2 separate regions of the Homo sapiens genome follow, and region 1 is linked to region 2. A link means that fine-mapping ties the variant in region 2 to the expression of a gene that starts in the linked region. Tissue or cell type: non-classical monocytes. Region 2 holds a variant in brackets; the other region holds the start of a gene. All regions are shown on one strand. Distances are between the middles of the regions.

What was found. PIP is the estimated chance that this variant, and not a neighbour inherited with it, causes the effect.
Region 1: BRI3 starts here. The variant in region 2 is fine-mapped to the expression of BRI3 in non-classical monocytes (Schmiedel 2018, PIP 0.93).

The regions. Positions count from the first base shown.
Region 1 is chr7:98,280,556-98,283,159 of GRCh38, reverse strand. BRI3 (brain protein I3) reads right to left here and starts at 1,474. Exons shown (of 3, transcript NM_015379.5): 1 at 1,223-1,474; 2 at 707-809. The coding sequence starts at 1,364. RefSeq lists silencers at 983-1,322, 1,453-1,962 and an enhancer at 1,659-2,604.
Region 2 is chr7:98,406,788-98,409,544 of GRCh38, reverse strand. No RefSeq gene overlaps it. Among named protein-coding and RNA genes, the nearest start is that of BAIAP2L1, 7.1 kb to the right of the region's middle. The variant A/T (reference allele first, on the strand shown) is at 1,300.

The sequences.
Region 1 (2,604 bases), 130 kb after region 2:
TGCCAAGGGTTTATATTTAATTAATCCTTATTTAAATGTGAATCCTCAAAACCTCCACAAAACAAGCCTCTAGCTGCACCTCGGGGCCCTATAAAAACCAAAAAGCGTGTGCAGGTCCAATGCGAGGATATGAAAAAAATAACTCCTGCCTCAAAGAAACACGGGGTTTCCATCCTGGTCCAGCTCGTGGAAGAGCGTTTCAAGCCAACTTTGGATAAAGCAGCTCTTACGGCCGTCGCTTCTCCCACTGAGGTCTGTCCTGCTGGTGCACTTACTTCCAAATGCCCCTTCCGGGAAAATGAAACCTTCCACCACCTTCGACGATCAACTGCAGAGTAAACTTGCGGAAAGTGAAGGAAAAAGCAGACACCTGATTCCTTGCAAGTCCCAGAACAAAGACGAAAGGACCACGAGTCCCGTTGTTACCATTTCTACATCCCAATCACTTGGGGTGCAATGCCCCAAGATCTAGGAAAAGGAATCCACCCTTTTGCCCCCACAAAATGTGTTCAGAGCCAAGGGTGAGCGGACCCGCACTCTCCCACACCGCATTCGGGCAGCCTGTCTGTCCCTCCCATAAAGGGCTCTGGTCAAGATCCAAGTCAAGCCGGACCCACTCCCACAAGCAGAGCTGTGAGGTCCTGGGGGTTAGGGCGGGGGTCCTCAGAGCTTCCAGGGCCAGTCCCCAGGCTGCAGACCCACTCACCTGCAGACAGGACAGCCTCCTACGACCACGATAGAGTTGGCAGGATAGCGGGTGACGGTCCGGCTGTGGATGTTGTAGACCCTGGGATGGTGGGTGGGTATCCCTGTGGGCGGGAAAGCAGGTCATTAGGGTGCAGGGAGGAGAAATCGGACCGCCACGGGGACTACTCATCCTGTCCCCTCAACCTCCACCCCGCTAAAAAAGCCCCCGGTCTTTTCCACCCTCGGGACGGCCACCGCGGGCCTGATTCGGCGCTAATCTGCCAACAGCGAGCGCCTCGTGACACAAAGTTCATCTGGGGCAGGGATCCGGCCCCGCCGGGTTACGACGGGCCCGAGGACTAGAGCCCCGGGGGGGAGGCTGGCCCTCGGCGGCGCCGGGTCCCGAAGCCAGCCCGGGGACCTCCAGCTCCAGGAAGGACCCCCGGGCGGGCCCCACCCGCCTCCGGACCCACGTCCCCCGACCGGGCTTGCCACCTCGGAAGCCGCCGGCGGGGAAAGTTGGTTACGGGCCCACCTGTGACGAGGTAGGGGTAGGGCGGCGGCGGGGGCGCGGCGGGGATGGCGCCGTAGCCGTGCGGGCCGCACGCGTAGTCGCCCTGGCCGGCCTCCAGGTTGTAGGCGGGCGGCCGCTCCTGCAGCAGCGGCTTGTGGTCCATGGCGGCCCGGCCGCGCCCGCCGCTCCGGCCCGGCTCGGCTCGGTCGGCCCCGGCGGGGGACGCGGCGGCGGCGGCGGGGACGCGGCGGACCGGGTGGCTCGGGCCCCTCTGAGGCAGACGCGGGGCGGGGCGGGGCGGGCGCGAGCCGCGGGCTTCCCCCGCCCTCCCGGGCCCAGTCACAAGACCGGGGTCACGTGGGCGGCGGGAGGCGGGGCTCGGGGGCGGGGCCGGCGGGGCGTCTTAAAGGGGCCGCGCCCTCCCGAAGCCGCCCCGCCGGCGGCGCCTCTGCACTCCGCCCCGCCCCGCCGCCGCTGCTCTCTAGACCTCCCGTGGCGGGGAGACCCCCCCCCCCGCCCATCCCCCACGACGACCCAGAGACGCCCCATAGGGTCATGACCTTTAGGGCTCGCGGATGCACCCCCACCTCCCCCTACGCCCCGATCTCCCAGGCCGGCCGAGGTCCCCCTACCGGTGGAGGAGGGGGAGGGCGGGGCCTGAGAGGGGGCGGGGCCGGGTGGGTCCCAGGCCGCCCCAACGCCAGCCCTCTGCCCCTATGATCGCCAGCGCTTCCAGCAATACAAAGGGCACACCCGGGTGTGCACCTCAGCTGCGGCCTGCGCGGTGCTCAGCTGCGGCGCATTCCCTCCGTTTGCCTTTTTTTGGACAATTAGGTGATTGACGGGGGTAGTAGCCAGTGCTTACAAATAACTCCCCCGTTTGGGGACAAAACTATAAATACTGGGCACCTGCCGCGTCTCCTCAGTTTCCCTAATCTTCAGGCAGCCCTGCCAGGTGTTTTGCTTACCCCTGGAGGACAACACGGGATCGGGCTCAGAAGGGGGAGGGATTTGGCTGTGGCAGGTGCGGGTCAGAGCCCGTATCTAAACCTGGGTGTTTTCTGGCCTCGGGGACTGCGTCAGGCGCCCTCGTTGAAACATTTCCTCATACAAGGCTTCACGGGTTGGCCAGGACAACTTTAAAACGAACGATTGGAACGTTCAGGATTGCTTGCGTCCTTAGCGCCTCTGCACCTTTTCAGGGGCACCTGTATCCGTTACTGTATTCTGTCTCCAGTTTTCTCACCTGCATTTTGATATCACCTGCACTGTAGCTCTGGGACGACTACAGCTCTTCTCGAACCGCGCCTTTTTAATTTTTAAAAAAAAAATTTGTAGGGGGTGCTGGGGGGGCTCTCTTGCTCTGTCACCCAGGCTGCAGTAGAGTGACACAGTCATTGCTC
Region 2 (2,757 bases):
ATTTTTAAACAACCCAAAAGCAAGGCTCAGGCCCACCTGGTGTCACTGGTGAATTCCATCAAACATTTAAATAAAGTAAATACTAATTCTTCATAAACTCTTCCAAGACATAGAAAATGAGAAAAAACAGGTTAGCAGTTCCTAAAAATGTTAAGTATAAAATGATCATGTGATCACTTGTGAACACGTAATCATGTTAAGTATAAAATGATCAGAGACTTTTTTTGCTATATAAGGTGAACTGTATTAGTCCATTTTCACACTGCTAATAAAGAATACCCGAGACTGGGCAATCTACAAAACAAAGAGGTTTCTTGGACTTAACAGTTCCACATGGCTGGGGAGGCCTCACAATCATGGTGGAAGTCAAGGAGGAGCAAACCATATCTTATGTGGATGGCAGCAGGCAAAGAGAGAGCTTGTGCAGAAAAACTCCCATTTTTTATTTGTTTTGTTTTTGTTTTGTTTTGAGACAGACTCTTGCTCTATTGCCCAGGCTAGAGTGTAGTGGCAGCATCTCGGCTCACTGCAACCTCCACCTCCCAGGTTCAAGCGATTCTTTTGCCTCAGCCTCCCTAGTAGCTGGGACTACAGGTACATGCCACCATATCCAGCTAATTTTTGCATTTTTAGTAGAGATGGGGTTTCACCATATTGGCCAGGCTGGTCTCGAACTCCTGACCTTGTGATCCACCCACCTCGGCCTCCCAAAGTGCTGGGATTACAGGTGTGAGCCACCGTGCCCAGGCAAAACTCCCGTTTTTAAGATTATCAGATCTTGTGAGACTCATTTACTATCATGAGAACAGCCCAGGAAAGACCCACCCTTATAATTCAATCACCTCCCACTGGGTTCCTCTCACGACACATGGGAACTGTGGGAATTACAATTCAAGATGAGATTTGGGTGGGGACACAGCCAAACCATATCATGAACATTCACAGGTTCTGAGGATTCGGACTTGGGCATCTTTGGGGATCCCTTATTCAACGTGCCATAGCTAGCGCTAAGCACTATTAGAGTTAACATAGAATGCTGCTGGGTGCGGTGGCTCATGCCTATAATTTCAGCACTTTGGGAGGCCGAGGCAGGAGGATAGCTTGAGGCCAGGAGTTTGAGACCAGCCTGGACAACATAGCAAGATCCTATCTCTAAAACTATTTTTTTAAGTATAGACAAGGTTTCACTATGTGGCCCCGGCAGATCTTTAACTCCTGGGTTCAAGTGACCCTCCCACCTTGACCTCCTAAAGTGCTGAGATTACAGGTGTGAGCCACCACGCACAGCCAAAATTTTTT[A/T]AAAAATTAGCCAGGCATGGTAGCGCATGCCTGTAGTCCCAGCTACTCAGGAGGCTGAGGTGAAAGAATCATTTGAGCCCAGGAGTTCGAGGTTGCAGTGAGCTATGATTGCACCACTGCACTCCAGCCTAAGCAACATTGCAAGACCCTGTCTCAAAAAAAATAAAATAATACATTAAAATAAAATAAAGTAGAATGGTATGATAGAGAGGGCCTCAAATACGACTTCAGGTTGAGTGGTCAGGAAAGGCCTCTATGAGGCTGCATCTAAACTGAACTCCAAATGACAGGAAATACCTGGGTTGGGGTAGGGGGGCAGGGAGGAGAACATTCCAGGCAGAAGAAATAGCTAGTGAAAAACTCTAGGAGGCCGGGCGCGGTGGCTCACGCCTGTAATCCCAGCACTTTGGGAGGCTAAGGTGGGCAGATCACGAGGTCAGGAGATCAAGACCATCCTGGCTAACACGGTGAAACCCCGTCTCTACTAAAAATACAAAAAAAATTAGCCGGGTGTGGTGGCGGGCGCCTGTAGTCCCAGCTACTGGGGAGGCTGAGGCAAGAGAATGGCGTGAGCCCGGGAGGCAGAGCTTGCAGTGAGCCGAGATGGTGCCACTGCACTCCAGCCTGAGTGACAGAGCAAGATTCTGTCGCAGAAAAAGAAAAAAAAAAAGAAAAACTCGAGGGCAGAAATGAGCTTGGCATGCAGGAGAACTCAATGCTGTTGAGATTAGAAGAAAAGTACAGAAAAGTCAATGAGTTTTAAATTCACATCTGCCTTTCAGAACAAGAAAACTTAAAGCTCTGGCCGGGCGCGGTGGCTCACACCTGTAATCCCAGCACTTTGTGGGCCGAGATGGGCGGATCACTTGAGGTCAGGAGTTCGAGACCAGCCTGGCCAACATGGTGAAACCCTGTCTCTACTAATAATTCAAAAATCAGCCGGGCATGGTGGCACGTGCCTGTAATTCCAGCTACTCTGAAGGCTGCAGCAGGAGAATGACTTGAACTCGGGAGGCGAGGGTTGCAGTGAGCCGAGATCGGGCCATTGCACTTCCAGCCTGGGTGACAGAGTGACATCCTGTCTCAAAAAAAAAAAAAAGCTGGGTGTGGTGGCTGTAATCCCAGCACTTTGGGGGCCGAGATGGGCAGATCACTTGAGGTCAGGAATTTAAGACCAGCCTGACCAACATGGTGAAACCTCATTTTACTAATAACACACAAATCAGCCAGACGTGGTGGCACATACCTGTAATTCCAGCTACTCTGGAGGCCGAGGCAGGAGAACCCAGGAGGCGGAGGTTGCAGTGAGCCAAGCAAGATCAGGCCACTGCACTCCAGCCTGGGCAACAGAGTGAGACTCTGTCTCAAAAAAAAAAAAAACCCAAACGGGCCAGGCCCGGTGGCTCACGCCTGTAATCCCAGCACTTTGGGAGGCCGAGGCAGGTGGATCACGAGGTC